Regions from separate parts of the Homo sapiens genome. Here regions 2, 3, 4 and 5 are each reported to be linked to region 1. Evidence: microRNA targets listed by miRTarBase, many of them from high-throughput screens and not tested one by one. Region 1 holds a microRNA gene; each other region holds the end of a gene's coding sequence.

Evidence for each region. Region 1 holds the annotated microRNA hsa-miR-221-3p (AGCUACAUUGUCUGCUGGGUUUC, at 1,973-1,995, opposite strand). A microRNA usually pairs through its seed, bases 2 to 8, with sites in the 3' UTR of a target mRNA and lowers its output. Matches are read on the target gene's strand: a 7mer-m8 pairs with bases 2 to 8, a 7mer-A1 pairs with bases 2 to 7 and ends in A, and an 8mer does both.
Region 2: miRTarBase lists ARF4 as a target of hsa-miR-221-3p. Seed matches in the 3' UTR shown: 8mer at 787-794.
Region 3: the mRNA of SPAG5 is a reported target of hsa-miR-221-3p. The part of its 3' UTR that is shown has no 7-base or 8-base seed match.
Region 4: miRTarBase lists PCDHA4 as a target of hsa-miR-221-3p. Seed matches in the 3' UTR shown: 8mer at 2,763-2,770.
Region 5: the mRNA of GID8 is a reported target of hsa-miR-221-3p. The part of its 3' UTR that is shown has no 7-base or 8-base seed match.

What each region holds. Positions count from the first base shown.
Region 1 is chrX:45,744,208-45,747,417 of GRCh38, forward strand. It overlaps MIR221 (microRNA 221), which reads right to left and starts at 2,059; the gene lies at 1,950-2,059. MIR222HG (miR222/221 cluster host gene) reads right to left here. Exons shown (of 2, transcript NR_170290.1): 2 at 1,007-3,210. MIR222 (microRNA 222) reads right to left here and starts at 2,917; the gene lies at 2,808-2,917.
Region 2 is chr3:57,569,399-57,572,608 of GRCh38, reverse strand. It overlaps ARF4 (ARF GTPase 4), which reads left to right. Exons shown (of 6, transcript NM_001660.4): 6 at 311-1,246. The coding sequence ends at 397. It also overlaps a transcript of PDE12 not described here. Among named protein-coding and RNA genes, the nearest start is that of PDE12, 15 kb to the right of the region's middle.
Region 3 is chr17:28,574,738-28,577,947 of GRCh38, forward strand. SPAG5 (sperm associated antigen 5) reads right to left here. Exons shown (of 24, transcript NM_006461.4): 24 at 2,837-3,033. The coding sequence ends at 2,962. It overlaps ALDOC (aldolase, fructose-bisphosphate C), which reads right to left and starts at 2,158. Exons shown (of 9, transcript NM_005165.3): 1 at 2,064-2,158; 2 at 684-807; 3 at 386-597; 4 at 215-269; 5 at 1-119. The coding sequence starts at 795. RefSeq lists a silencer at 2,091-2,330 and an enhancer at 2,381-2,560.
Region 4 is chr5:141,009,767-141,012,766 of GRCh38, reverse strand. It overlaps PCDHA4 (protocadherin alpha 4), which reads right to left. Exons shown (of 4, transcript NM_018907.4): 4 at 420-3,000. The coding sequence ends at 2,830. PCDHA1 (protocadherin alpha 1) reads right to left here. Exons shown (of 4, transcript NM_018900.4): 4 at 420-3,000. The coding sequence ends at 2,830. It overlaps PCDHA2 (protocadherin alpha 2), which reads right to left. Exons shown (of 4, transcript NM_018905.3): 4 at 420-3,000. The coding sequence ends at 2,830. PCDHA3 (protocadherin alpha 3) reads right to left here. Exons shown (of 4, transcript NM_018906.3): 4 at 420-3,000. The coding sequence ends at 2,830. It also overlaps PCDHA5, PCDHA6, PCDHA7, PCDHA8, PCDHA9 and PCDHA10, and 7 more genes. Among named protein-coding and RNA genes, the nearest start is that of PCDHB1, 40 kb to the left of the region's middle.
Region 5 is chr20:62,944,507-62,947,506 of GRCh38, forward strand. GID8 (GID complex subunit 8 homolog) reads left to right here. Exons shown (of 5, transcript NM_017896.3): 5 at 233-3,000. The coding sequence ends at 406. Among named protein-coding and RNA genes, the nearest start is that of SLC17A9, 6.7 kb to the right of the region's middle.

The sequences.
Region 1 (3,210 bases):
CTTGGACTTCCCAGCTTCTAGGACTATAAGAAAATAAATTACTGTTCATTATAAATTACCCAGTCGCGGGTACTTTGTTATACCAGCATGAATGGACTAAGACAGTGATCAACTCAGTTGTCAGAGGTCAGGGGTGGGATTGAATGTTGAAAGCTCCAACCCTCTAATCATACCTTGGTCTTTCTGACAACCAGCCTTCATCCTGAAGCTAACTTGCCACCACCTCTACTCCCCGCTAAGCCAAGTCATCTCATTATCTTGTTAGCATACAGAAAGACACTCATCACTCCAGAGAGTCCAAGGATCTTAGAAGCTCTTGTGTCAGGAACAGGGGACTAAGACCAAATACTTTAACAAAAGATGCTATCACCTCTATTAGTTAGAAAATTATGACAGTTTTAGCAGCTCTGTTCCAGGAACTGAGGGTGAAGACCAAATATGTCTTTTTCTTATTATATTATCACAACATTCAATCTTGCTTTGAGGATCAACCCAATACTTGTACCTGAGAGGGAAATGTAAACTTATCAATGGAATTAGGGAGTTCTTCACACCTGGCACCACTGTCAACACCTTCTCATTTAATGATAGGCAAAGGGACTCAAAGAACATCAGAAGTAAGGAGTGGAGGACTGGGCATGGTGGTTCAAGCCTGTAATCCCAGCACTTTTGGAGGCTGAGGCGAGAGGATCACTTGAGCCCAAGAGTTCTGTACCAGTGCACTCCAGCCTGAATGACAGAATGAGAACTCATCTCTTTAAAAAAAAAAAAAAAAAAGTATGAGTGGACATGGGAGAAGAGAAACTGTCCCTTTGGTAATTATGATTTATTAAACATAACCATGTTGCACAGAGCCACTTATTTCTCTTAAAAGCCTGTCAAACGTCTTAAGTGGAATTACTTTCTCTTCCCGGGTCACAAAAGCCAGTGGCTCAGGTACAGAATAGATAATAGAACTGATTGGTGAGTAGGAAGCCAAAAGACACACACAGAGAACAGTACAATCTTTTAAAAGCTCCAAGTCATTAGCTTTATTTTTACTGAATTCAGCATGGGATGACAAAAATGCATTATATCACTACCATCCATTATTACATGTAGACATTTATCCTTGTATTCTTTATATGTCCATTTTCTACGTTAAATCTGTTAACCAATACTAATTTAAATTACATGATTTCCTACTAAAAATATGCAGTTCATATAAGCAAGGGCAAATAAATCCTCCTTAAAACATTTTATTCCTTTATAATTGAGAACTTAACAGTCTTAATGGCTAGTTCTTAAAAAATGTTTATAGGATTAAGTTTATTTAAGAGAGCAGACAAACAAAACATATTGTAAAACTAGTATTTTCCAGAAGCAATTTCCATTCTCTTCCTTTCTTCCTGCAAACTGGTGTTTTATCTTTACAAGTTCTCTGTCATTCCATAAGAAAGCTGAACAGTGGTTAAAACATCCAGTTTGCTTGAATTCCTGAGTGATTCAGATTCCAGTGAGATTGAGGGTCATTCATAACAGTTACAAGGCTGGTGTGGTAAAGGGAGAACAAAAATAAACTGGGTTTCTGCAGGTAAGTGAGAAGACAAAATGAAGAGGAATAAGGTTGTAAGGCAGTATGATTAGGCTTGTGGGTGCTATGCCTTCTGATAATAATTATGAACAGAAATAGAAGCCAAAAAGTAAACAACATGTAAGTTGTCAATCTTTGACAGTTGAGGCAGGGAGAAGGAAGGAAGGATGACATTACACCTTATCTCTGGTTTACTAGGCTGGTGTGTGAGACCATTTGGGTGAAATCGTATTGAAATCATTCATTGCTGAGGTGATCAGCTTTCTTGCGGTCCTTTCTCTGCACTCTATTCAATGATAAACTCCACTGGTTTATACCTCCTGGAAAACAGTTATTCAGAAACATTATAGGGGTAGCATTGGTGAGACAGCCAATGGAGAACATGTTTCCAGGTAGCCTGAAACCCAGCAGACAATGTAGCTGTTGCCTAACGAACACAGAAATCTACATTGTATGCCAGGTTCATGCCCCAGACCTGGATGTTCAGCTTGCAAGTAATTCTCACATACTATTTCAACACAACTGCCTACTGCATTCAAGATTTCAAAATTGGCATTTGTCTTTTCTACCACAAGGAAAAGAAAACCAACAGTCAGAAATGCTGGGACTTACCTACTACCAACAAAATTTCCTTAAACCATCATATCATCAAGTTGTCATCATTTAATCATGACATCATGTTGAAAATGCCATCTAAAAGTCAAGAGATGAAAAAGCTGGATGGAAGGAAGGTCGGATAGATAAACTGGTAGGTACGTGGGCAGGTGGGTGGATGGATGGATGGATGGGTGGATGGATAAATGGGTGGATGGGTAGGGGTAGATAGGTAGGTAGGTAGATAGATGAATAGATTGATCTATCCAAATGATACCTTTCATAGGGGGGAAAGAGAAAAAAAGAGGTAAAACAAAAACAGGTAAGAGCTAAAACATGGATAAATATCCAGATTCCTCCCCCTTGTAGTATTGAAAGCAAATAGACCTCATCATTCATAAAACCTTGAAGGTTCCCAAGCCCCAGCTGATAATGTTGGACTTAACACCCTAGAACTTGACTCTCTCCTCTCTCTCTGTCTCTCTCTCTCTCTCTCTCTCTCTCTCTTTGTGTGTGTGTGAGTGTGTGTGTGAGTGTGTGTGTGTGTGTGTGTGTGTGTGTGTGTGTGTGTGTGTAATTCAAGGTAAAGTTTTCATTATTAAAGACTGCCCAATAATCTCTCTCAGGACACTGAAGCAGAAGCTAGAAGATGCCATCAGAGACCCAGTAGCCAGATGTAGCTGCTGATTACGAAAGACAGGATCTACACTGGCTACTGAGCCATTGAGGGTACCTACACCTTCCAGCAGCTGGGTGATCCTTTGCCTTCTGGGGAGGGGCTCTGTGGAAGAAAAAAGAAGATATCAGATTTCAATTGCACATTTTCTTTGGATCATGAATTGACATTTTGACAATATTCCCATGTACGTAATTTTAAACAACCTCTGGATTTATTTACTTATCCAACAGATACTGACTGAGTGACATTAAATAAAGTGCCACATATTTTCTTAGGTGCTGGAGATCCAGCAGCAAACAAAAAAAGTGGAAAATCTCTATACTTCTACAGCATACATGATTCCTTGTGACAAAATCTACAATCA
Region 2 (3,210 bases), not on the chromosome of region 1:
CAGAATAGGTAGAAGTGGCTTTATTTTTAAAAAATAATTTAATCTAAAAAAGTAGAGACAAAGTCTCACCATGTTACCCAGGCTGGTCTCGAACTACTAAGCTCAAGTGATCCTCCCATCTCCGCCTCCCAAAGTGCTGGGATTTATAGGTGTGAGCCACCACGCCCAGCCAGAAGTAGCTTTAAATATGGGAGAGTTTTGTGAGATGCAAGAGGTGTGAAAAGACTCTTAAGTTTGATTAAGAAAGTTTAAACACTGGTGTTATATATTAACTTTGTTAATCAAGTATTTTCTTGTCTTCTCTTTACAGTGGTATGTTCAAGCCACTTGTGCAACACAAGGAACTGGTCTGTATGAAGGACTTGACTGGCTGTCAAATGAGCTTTCAAAACGTTAAATGAAATTGGATATCTAACCAAGGACATGTTTGATAAAATTGGTCTAGGCTTGTTACAACAAAATTAGTTTGTATCTTGGTTATTAAACAGTATCTGGGACTGGTTTGGGCAGAATATTAAACTTATTTTGTTGCCAATTATTGTTTACCGAGTATAATGTTGCTATTTAGCAATGTGCTTGGTTTTAAAGAAATTCTCCTTGGGAAAAAAGTATCCTCTTTTAATTTTACTTCCCATAAGCGTAAATGCCTGGACATAGCTCTTGTGCAACCTTTAAATAAATTGTTTTGAGTGTTTTTTGAGCCCCAGACAAATAATGTTTTAAAGTTATCCCCTTGCTACTTTACTGATACCTTTATCATTCCTGAGACAGTTTGCTAATTTAAAAATGTAGCATTCCATTTGTATTTATTTCTCTCCCTTGCCAAAAAGATTTTCTAATACTGCTTGTACCAGCCAGAGAAAGATCCAAAACACTACTCAGCTCTCTTGCACTGAGGAAATTTTTCCCCCTACATTGACTCCTGGCCTACATCAGCCAAACTTAACCTTGGTGGGGTTTGGATTTGATAGCCAATTAGTTCTGTGCTGGTTGCAAAGAATTGATATTTAGATGGTTTTTAATACTCAGCAGATTGTCTTCCTTTATATTGTGTCTTTTTTATGTTGCATGTTGCTTTTGTTATCAGCCTGATTTTTTGCTCAGTATATGATAGTTCTGCTGATGTTTTGTTTATTGGGCAGACATATCTTCATTAAGAGTTTTTGGAAAACTCATCAAATTCGATGAATACATTTTCTTCATAACCCATTTGGAATTATTCCTAATAAAATGATAAAATACGTAATTGTGTGTGTTCTTTTTGAGTTTTGAAGGTATTTGAAATGTATTTTCTTATGTAGCCAACTTTGCTTGCATATTTTATGTACTGTGAACAGTAACACAGATCCCACTGGTAGGTTACTAATTGTATAAAGTGGAGATCTAGATTGTTTTCATGTGTATAACAGCATGGGGAACACTATTAAAAACATAGTTTTCTAAAGTCAGATCAAGGGTAAAAGGAGGGCCTGGCATGGTGGCTCACGCCTGTAATCCTAGCACTTTAGGAGGTTGAGGCAGGAGGGTCACTTGAGAATAGGAGTTTGAGATCAGCTTTGGCAATGTAGTAAGACCCTGTTTCCCCTGTCTCTACTTAAAAAACTAAAAACAAAACAACAACAACAAAAAAATCAGGTGGGGGGTGGGGAGGGGCGGCATGTGGAGTGGGGTAGGGAGAGTAAAAGGCTGTAATAAAATGAACTGCCCAAAAAGCATGTATGTATGTGTTTTTTAGTTAAGGTTAATTAAACAAAAAAATTCAGGTGCTACTTGTATGGCCAATATAGAGACTTAGTGATGCTACTTTCCTACAAAAAAGTTTCACAACCACTTTTCTTTTTAACAGGGCAAATTTTAGAACTTTAACAGAAAGCTGCATATAATTCATACAAAGGTATACCTCATAAACTACATCTATTAAGTTTTAAGGGCTCAACTTGATAACTGAGTAACTTAGTTTCTGTCTATATTCTCATGTTGCATTCTTAATGGCTTGTAAAGATTCAGCTAAATTTATGGATTGAAAATTCCAAAATCAAATGCATACTTTTAAAAAAATGTATATTTTTGAATTGTCAAATAAATAACAATGGCCAGGCGTGGTGGCTCACACCTGTAATCCTAGCACTTTGGGAGGCCAAGGTGGGCAGATTGCCTGAGCTCAGGAGTTCAAGACCAGCCGCAACATGGTGAAACCCCATCTCTACTAAAAATACAAAAAAAAAAAAAAAAGGGTCTGGTGTGCTGGTGCATGCTGTGGTCCCAGCTACTTGAGAGGCTGAGGCAAGAGACTCGCTTGAACCTGGGAGGCAGAGGTTGCAGTGAGCCAACATAGCGCCACTGCACACGGTCTGCAAGACTCTGTCTCCAAAAAAAAAAAAAAAAAAAACACTGGATTAACCAAAAGGAAATTAGAATTGGTTGATGATTAGGTAGGGCAAAGTGTATGTTTAGTTTGTGTTACTTGTTAGAAATGCAATTTCCCTAGCCAACTGGATGAATTCTCCTTTCTTCCTTCCAAAGAAGACAGGTGTCATTTCCTATAGGATAAAACTGAACTATAGTATAATTGTTGTGTGTGTAGTCTTATGGGGCATCAACTAGGAAATATAAAACATCAGTGAATAAGTTCAGCGTTAGGGCTAGGTATTTAACCTAGTTATGCAAAGGTGTTTACATGGACTGTAAAGGGACTAGAGAATCTATGTAATCTTACTCGTGATGTAAAGCAGCTCTTAGTACCATTGGAAATTACCTTTTTTTTTTTTTTTTTTTTTTTGAGATGGTTTTACTCTGTCACCCAGGCTGGAGTCCAGTGGCAGGATCTTGGCTCACCGAAACCTTTACTTCCTGGGCTCAAGTGATCCTCCCATCTCAGCCCCACAAGTAGCTGGTACTACAGGCATGAGCCACCATGCCCAGGTAATTTTTATAGTTTTTAAAGAAAGTATTAGGCTGGGTGGGGTGGCTCACATCTGTAATCCTGGCACTTTGGGAGGCCGAGGCAGGTGGATCACCTGAGGTTGGGAGTTCAAGACCAGACTGACTAACAAACATGGAGAAACCCCATCTCTACTAAAAATACAAAACTAGCCATGCATGGTGGTGCATGCCTGTAATCCCAGCTACTCGAGAGGCTGAAGTGGGAGAATTGCTTGAACCTGGGAGGTGGAGGTTGTGGTGAGCCAAGACCGCACCATTGCACTCCAG
Region 3 (3,210 bases), not on the chromosome of region 1:
CTCCAGAATGGCAAGTGCAGAGGGTGTACGCTCACTGATTTTCAGCACACAGCGCCACTTGGCAAAGTCAGCACCATCCTTCTTGTATTGGGCACAGCGTTCTGAGAGCCCATCCAGCCCTGCAAGCACAGTGCCAACCTCATTACTCTGCCCCTCTTTTACCAGCATCAACTATCTAACACCTCTTTGGTCCTCAAGCCCACCCATCCTATACCTTGAGTGGTGGTTTCTCCATCAGTCCCAGCTAGAGGCACCACACCCTTGTCAACCTGTAGAGGAAGTACAAGCAGAGGGTTGAATCCAGGCAGGATTCTCCTTGCTACCCCTCCTACACAAGCTTATTTTCACACCCAGCTTCCATTCAGAGCAGGGCCAGGGGCTGCACCTTGATGCCCACGACGATGCCCTTATCCTGGATGGTTCGGACGAAGGGAACACCATTATCATCTTTCTGGTAGAGGGTCTCATGGAAGAAAATGACGCCTCCAATGCACTTTTTCACACGGTCATCAGCACTGAACAGGACCTGGCGGTACAGCCGGCGGTTCTCCTCTGTGTTTTCCACCCCAATTTGGCTCAGCCGCTTGGCCATGCTGCCTAGGGGCAAACAAAGAGAGGCAGTGAGAACATCCCCAGGGTCCCCTAGCCACCTGTACCCTACCTGGCTACAGATGTCCACTTACCTACAGACTCATCCGCAGCCAGAATGCCTTTGCCCGGGGCTACAATCCGCAGGGCAATGTCAGACAACTCCTTCTTCTGCTCAGCAGAAAGGGCTGGGTACGAGTGAGGCATGGTGACAGCTCCCTGGAGTGGAGACAAGATAAAAAAGCCAGACCTCACCCTCTGCTGCCTCTCCTGGCCAGATGGGCCAAATGGCCTCCCCATCAAGCAAGGGGCTGGGAACAGGGCAGCAGTCCTTGGCATGAGTCCTGGGCATCAAGTGGCACCAGTCCTTCTGACAGCTAGCAAGCTTAGGGCTCCAGTTCCCACATCTCCTTTTGTCCCTGGTAGGCATCCTTCCCAGCCCTGGGGAAAGATGCAGGGTGGGGGTGGGGAGGTGAGCAGCCCTGAAGCCACAGCTCTTCTGATAAATCTGCTGCCCAATCAAGGATGCCAACCCTTCTTTCACTGAACTTGGTCCCTTGTTGAGGTAGGCAAAAGTCCTGGCCTTTCCAGCTTCCCTTTTCTCATCCTCCACAGGACCCCTAGGGAAAGTGTACTTACTTCCAAGGCTTCAGAATGAGGCAAAAGTACTTATTGCCACCCTCTTCTCTCAGCTTCTAGAGGAAAAGGTTGGAAGAACAGGTAGGGAGTAGGAGTGGCACAAATACCAGTCACAGGCTCCTGCAGCTTCTCCTTTTCTGTACTCCAAACCTGCCTGCCTATGCCTATTGCCTATTCCCACCCAGTACCAGAGGTTGGCCCCAGTGGGGCTGCAGTGATGTAGGAAAGAGGGCCCAGCGGGTCAGCTGTGTTAGTGTGTGGAGACTAGGGCTAGTGACACCTCCGGGTCATCTCTGTGCCCAGGAAGCACTTCACCTGTTTGGCAGGAGGATAGCAATAGGAAGCACTTCAATTCCCCACAACTCAGACACCCAGACGGGAGGGCAGAGGACCAAGGCTGAAAGGAGTAGAGAGCCTGAGAGAGAGATGAGACTGAGGGGAGCTAGTGGTGATGCAGGCTAACCAGTCAGCGGGAGAGACCTAGACCGGGGGGCAGAGAAGGCGGGAGAACTGGAGAGAGGACCTAGCCTAGGAGGAGAGGGAGCAGGCTGAGAAGGAAATGCTCTGGGTAGGAGAGACAGACTCCAAGGAAAAATCCAACAAGTAGAGGAGGATTTGGGATTGGAAAAGCTGAGGTCCAGCTGGGAGAGCTGAAGAGGGATAGAACAGAAGAGGTTGAGCCATGGGGTTTCAAGTACGCGGAAAGGAGCAAAGATGTTAGGAAAGGGTCGAAAGGGCACATCCCGGAGTCCCAGGTAGCAGGACGAGGATGGCAGGGGAAGAGCCAAGGAAATGAAGCGGAGATGTTGAGTGGCTCCCGCCTTGCCTGGCCTTACCTGTGCGCAGCCAGTTAGCAGCCGCAGCCACAAGCACAGCTCGGGTTCTGATCCGCAAACAGATGAGGCTGCAGCCCTGGCTCCCTCTGGTAAATGAGGCTGCGGATGTCGCAGAGCTACGTGACTCCTCCGGGGGCGTGGCCTGCATGCCCCGCCCTGACCACACCCCCTCCCCAGGACTGGTGTCCGGGGCAAGACCACGCCCTCAGAGGCGGGGCGGCGAGGTGGAGTGAGCGCCCCGCCAGGCATCCGTGGCTGTTAGGGACTGCCCTCCCACCTCGGGGAGCCTGGCCATGACCTTGCGTTCATTTCTGCCACAATCCCTTTACCACGTGCCGGGCACTTGCTGGATGCTGGGGATTAAGCTTAGTCTGGTGAAGAGGAGGCACCAGAACAGTAACAACAGGTTGAGTAGGTGGGGCAGAAGCATCTTCAAGGTGCCCAAGTTCAGGGCAGGAAGTAATGAACTGAGCTTCTCTGTCCTCACCCCCATATTTGCCAGGGTATACCCCCGAGGGGGCTGGGGAAAGTAAGAGAATGAAGCCTTTCTGTTTCCTCCAGGCGGTGAGCCAGGGAACAAGCAGTCCAGTGCCCAGAGTTTTGGTGAAAGCAGAGGAAGGGAGGAAGGGCAGGCAGCCTTGGCTTTGGATGCAGCAGGAGGTGGAGAGGGATCTATGGAGGGTGCCCAGGCAGGAGGCCCAAGCTGCTTCTTCCCTGACTTCATCATCCGCCCCCTCTCACCCAAAAAGTAAGATTCCGTAAGCTTGGAGAAATTCATTAAATACACTTTATTTAAATAGCATTTATCTCAGTTGGCTCTATGCCAGTTGGTCTTGGTATTGGGGTAAGGGGGTATTGCAGGTAAAAAGAGGTGAAGCAGATTCTGGCTTTCAGTTTCTTAGCTCAGAAATTCCAGCAATCCCTGTAGTTCTTTGCATCCCCTCACCACCTCTGGAATAGAGAGCAGGGTCTGGGAAGAGAGGCAGAAAACGCAGCTCAGGACCACAGACTTAAGGCCCAGGGCTCCCAGCCCCAGGAGGCAGCCGCTGAATTAGAGGGGAGAAAACAGACACCACAGAGAAGCCTGCAATAGTGATTCAGGCCCAGCTCTCAGCACAGGCTGGGAACCAGATCTGTGCTCATTAGT
Region 4 (3,000 bases), not on the chromosome of region 1:
TCTGGCCTTGGCCTTCCAAAGTTCTGAGATTACAGGCAAGAGCCACTATCCCTGACCTAAAAGTTCATTTCTTTGGGGTGTCACTTGGCTTTCCAATTGTAGAGAGGTGCAAGGGCTAAACAAGTAATGAAAAAGATGCCTAGAAGGGCTCTTGTGATAAAAATGGGTTTGTTGCAATTCTTATTAGAGAAAACTGAAATAGTGTAACTACAAAGTGACGCAGCAACCTCCTGGCTGCCCATTCTAATGATATGAAGTTTGAATCTTGATTCCACTGGGGCTTTTGCCTTAGTAATGGACATAAAAGCTAACGTGATAAGAGAGTGTTACAGTGAGTTTCATACTGCAGCAATCTTCTTCAGTATTAATTGCTTATCAGTGTTCTATTTCCTCCTATTCTTAGAAATGACCACCATTTCTTTCATACCACCATTTTCATTTATTAGCAATAACAGAGGAAATACCAATAGCACCAATTCAAAATGAATCCACATGACGTGTTTTATCCTTACAGCTGTAATAACTAGTAACTAACATGGATTGGAAAGCACTTCGCAAATGTAAAAAGTGCTGTACAGATACATTATAATTATCATCATTAATAAATTAGCCCGATTCTCCTAGTTCAAAAGGCACGTAAGGTCAGATACATGGGCTTCAGTGGGGCAAAATGATCACAACCTACAATGTAGCAATGGTTCACATGTGTTGGTAACAAGTTTTACCCCATGCAATCCTGCAGAGCTGAAGTTACACACCCTTCAAAATATGGGAGAATGAAGCTAAAAGTAGACAAGACAGTTTTTTTTTAAATTTAATGCTTTTTTTAAATAACAGACTCCTACCTCTTTTATATTAATGCCTAAATAGATAATATAATTAATCAAACTTCTAAATTGTACATTATAACAAAATTAAAATGTCTTATTTAAGGTGACAGCAAATTTTGTTACTTTCTATGAGCTGATATTTCAGATACCATTAGAATTTCAAAGCATTCTGCAACTTCAAAGAGGTCAGATTGGTAAAATTTGTGCTTGCACACCCTCATGGAATATTGTCAGTATTCATTCCAAAATTGTTACTAGAACAAAACAGCTTTATCCATTCCCTTGCCAGCAGAAGTCTTGGCACGAGATGGCTCTTGGCTGGACCATAAATAAAATTCCTTGAATCACCAGTATCTTGATTTAAGAAAGAAATTTTACTGTGTCTTTCATACACAAAAGCTGATTAACAATGGTTAAAAAAACACTACTCCACTTTTTCACAGGTGTACAAAAGGAAATATAATGGAATTACATTCAACAATAAAGCTTAAAGTTCACTCTAGGTAATAGTTGCATTAACATTCACATACACAAGCACAGAGTAAGTATATTTCAGGAGTCTTAGCATAGCATACAGCATACATATGGGAGATTGATTTCAGGTAACATCATAGGTGTTAGTAAGATTAGCAATTCAGAGTGTTATAGAAAAGGAAAACTAAACCAAAGAGAAGGTGTAGGCTAGCACACCAAGACAAGTCACAGAATTAGTAGATTGAAAAATCTGCTCACTGTATGAGAAAACAATATTTTTCTTCAATTTTTGGGTCTTGATATATAGTTGGTTAGAGAAGGTTGTGTATCAAAGTGCACATAATTGTTTCTTAGAAAAGAGAGAGAGAGAGAGAAAGAGAGATCATTTTATTTAGTAATACATGCAAGAGGCAGCCCCAGAGTGACCTGAAAGAGTAAAGCTGTGATTGGCAGGTGGCCGATATAATACAGATGTTTCAGGCAATTCTCTTAAAGCACTTCTGTAGCAGCAATGATCATTTAAATGGCTGTAGACTGAATTCTCTTTTGAGGAGAGTTTAGGGGAATTGTATTCATATTTCTCTTTAAAGATTTATAGCTATAGACTTTCTCTTTTTTTAAATAAATCTATGAAACAACAAACAGCGAAAGGTGAGGTGTCGGGGTTTTCTTTTGCTTTTGCATAAGTATTGGAAAAGGATCTGGCCTTTTCATAAACATTGTGTGCAAAAGAATTTTTAATAAAGTGAGCACAGGACATGTATAGGAAACACATCAGATCTGCTTCTGTTTCCCAGGGTGGTTCTCTGTTAAAACACTGAACTGTTGGCTTGCAGGTATGATGCAGATTTTAGGTATAATGACGTCACAGCCAACAGACTTTAGGGTCTCCTAAAGCCTTGTCAGTGGGGGTAGTTTTGTCTCCTAGAGGGTGGCTGCCACCTCTTGAGTTGTAAGATTTAGAAAGTCTGGTCCCTTTAAGTTTACACTTCCCCTCCATACTGATAACTTCCGCTGTTTATTTGTCTTTGTTTTCTTGCCTTCCTTGTACCAATTAGTCTAAGCTGGCTCGTCTCAGCCAATATCTGGCACTCGCATACCCGCGGTAGCCACACATACCCAGTGGCCACAAACTCCCAAGCTGCTCAATCTCAAAACTTTTCAGCCTGCCCTGCAAGTGTCATCAAGACAGGATCCCCGGAGCACAGGGCAGAGAGTCCAACCTCTCACTGGCGGGGCTGGGAAGCCTCTCCTTTGCGGCGGAGGAGAAAGGAAACTTGGGTCTGCTTTTTAGGTTCTGAAAACAAGCCAGAGTGGAGAGAAAGAGTTAACACCAGACTTAGTAAAGCTTTTACGACAAAACCTGTTAAATGCGTTCTAGACAGACACAGGGAACTTTCTGCAGATTTCTGAGGTCTCTAAGAGGGCTCATGTAGATAGGAAAAAGGAGCAGGGAATTGCTACATGGGAGAGATTTGCCATTATTACAAAAACTGGCTAAGTGGCTTGTTTCCATTTGAGGACCTCACTGGTCACTGTTGTCAGTCGTGCTGTTCCCTTTCTCTTTTTTCTCCTGGGTCTTGTTACCCTTCTTCTTTTTCTTCTTTTTCTTGGTCTCCTCCTTTTTGCCGAAGGTTATGAAGTCACTTTTGTCAATTTGGCTGTTAGTAGGCTCCTGCCGGATGGAGATGATTGC
Region 5 (3,000 bases), not on the chromosome of region 1:
GTCCCCTCAGCACTTTGTTCAAGGCTTGCTCATGGCACTTAACTGCCATCGAGGTTGCATGTGACGTTTAACAACCAGACTGTGAGCTTCCCCAGGCAAGGACTATGTATTTCATGTCCTGAGAGTGTCTCGCAGTTAAGAGCTTAATGTTTGTTTAAACTGCCTCTTTTTAATAGACTCTGCTGGTGCTCTGCGTGTATGGTGGTTTTTATCAGATGTATTTATATTCTAGGTGTGGAGTGAAGTTAACCAAGCTGTGCTAGATTATGAAAATCGCGAGTCAACACCCAAACTGGCAAAATTACTGAAACTACTACTTTGGGCTCAGAACGAGCTGGACCAGAAGAAAGTAAAATATCCCAAAATGACAGACCTCAGCAAGGGTGTGATTGAGGAGCCCAAGTAGCGCCTGCGCTTGCGTGGTGGATCCAACACCAGCCCTGCGTCGTGGGACTTGCCTCAGATCAGCCTGCGACTGCAAGATTCTTACTGCAGTAGAGAACTCTTTTTCTCCCTTGTACTTTTTTTTGACCTGGCATCTTTTTATAGGGAAAAATGGCCTTTGTAGGCAGTGGAAAACTTGCAAGGAAAGCTGCCGTCTCTTTGGCAGTCTGATGCAGAGCCTGCACTCTGGCACTCGCTGAAGAATCTGGAAGGTTGCGGTTTGCTCTTCCAGTGTTCGGGGGCCTCTGGCTGCTGAAGGATTCGGTCTACCACGGAGGGCTGTGCTGTTAGGCTGCATCCCACTCAAAATACAGGAAAAGCACGAATCATGATTCTGCTTTCTGTTAGCTTAGGCAGACATTGGGCCTTCACCTACAAGTTTTTCCTTACCCCTGTGGTTTTTGTGTTTTTTTTTTTTTCTTTTTCCATAGGAAAGAATATATAAATTTGTAAATCCTAATTCAAAGATGGCTCATGTGTGAGGGCATTGAGTTTGATTTGTTTTCCCTTTGGTCTGGGTTGTGTGGCTTTTGGGGGATGCGTGTGAGGGGGCTATGTGTTTTTTAATTTTTTAAATATATATTTTGGTGCTGTGTGTGGTAAGAGACTTGTTCCTAGTGGATCAATGAACCATCTCTTCTGGGCAGTTTTGTTGAAAATAAAGGTTTCTCTTTGATTTCAAGAATGACCAAAATGGCCTCTAAAAGATGTTAATCATCTCAAATGACCTTTTGTCTTTGGGGCGTTCTTCCCCCTGTGATAGCGGCAGTGGCTTTTTCTGGTACCTGCAGCTGGAAAGGCCACTTGGCCCTGTGCTGAGTGAGCGGCCTTCATTAGAGCGAGGCAGCCCTTGGCCGGTGGGGACGCAGAGCCCCAGCAGGTGGTGCACGACTGTTGGCGGAAGGAACGCGTGTTCATCCTCAGTGATCTGCCCTCCAGCATCTCGGCAGCATCTCATCCTCCATCGTCAGCTGGCTCTGCCGATGTCCTGCTTCTGTTCACTCACAGAACTGTCCCCTGCTCCGTGGTGGGCAGGAGGGAAGTGGTGCAGGGCTGCGTGCATTGCCTGCGAGTCGGGACAGTTGATGGGCACATGGCCTTGTAGCTCTGGGCACAGATGTGTTTGGATTCATTGCAGCGGACCACCGGGCACTGTTGACCCCACTGAGCAGTGCTAAGTGTTGGTTTAGTGGATGTTCGTGGAATTGCTGACCCATCCAAGGGCGTCCTTTGGAGCCAGTGGAGCCTGCCGGCGCATCTGAGGGGCAGAATGCTGCTAGCACTTGAATCTGGGATCTCGCCTTATTCTCAAGTAGCAAGGCATCTCGACAAGCATGGTCTAGGTCTGGTGGCCAGCTTGCCAGTACCTGAGCCGGTCGGGTCATCTGCCTCTGAGGGACCGTCCTCACCGAGCTCCTGCATCCCTTGAGTGTTGATCAGGAGGCGTCCACAGCATTGTTCTCGCCTCTGAATGATGCTTCTTTCTGTGTTGGAGCCTGGCGAAGTTGTGTTTTCAAGCCCTCTACTTCTCTTTCCAGTGGGTAGGAGCTTTTGGCAGTGTTTACTTTACCTAGATGGCTTATATAATCCAGTAAGAGATGCAAAGATAAAATTGCTGCGGTTGTTACAGAAGCATGGCGGCCTCCAGACTGACCCATTGGTTGCCCTTTAGATTTTGTAAGGATGCGGTGCTGGGGAGGTGGTGCTTCCCTACCCCCTAGAAATGCTGCCTTCCAACTACCACTCTCCCAGATGTGACCCTTGCGATTATTTCCTCTGAGGTTTGAGGATGAAGATAAGTTGGAGGGAAAGAGAGTAACTAATAGGGGATGAAATATAGCAGAAGCTAGAAGAAAGCGGTGAGGTGAGAGAGATGCATCTGCACGTTTTCTTCAACAGCACCAGGTGATTCAGCATATTCCTAATTACCTTTCACTATTCGTGTATATAAGATCGTTTACTTGCATAATATATCATCAATTTGACATATTCTTAAAACTAGAGGGTGTGAGAAGCACAGCAATAGGAAGTCTCTCCACAAACTAGGGGAACACAAATGGGGTCATTCACGTGCCTGGACTGTCACTATGTGGCTGTCACGTGAAGTGCTGGTGTTGATTTCCATTTCAGCCAGTGGGTAGCTGATAAGCCAGTGCCAGCATCCAGCATGAGCAGATGTCGGGGAGACTGGGAAGTCTCCAGCGTTACTGCTCTCCTTCCCTTCATGATAAGCCAGTGCCAGCATCCAGCGTGAGCAGACGTCGGGGAGACTGGGAAGTCTCCGATGTTACTGCCTGCCTTCCTTTCGTGTGAGGGGCTGCACTTGCTTTTCTTGTGATCTGTTAGTGGACGAGGTCTTCCAAGGAAGTGCTTTGCACACTTTCTTTGCTCCTTTTTACAGTCTTTGTCTTTGCAGCAAGCAAATGAAATTAAGCCACTTTGGGATAATGAACATTCAGTATAATTCTACTTTGTCTCATTTTGGATCTCACTGTTGTCTTTATAAAAATGGCACATTTTACAAAGTAGTTTATTCTTATTATACTTTCTGCTGGA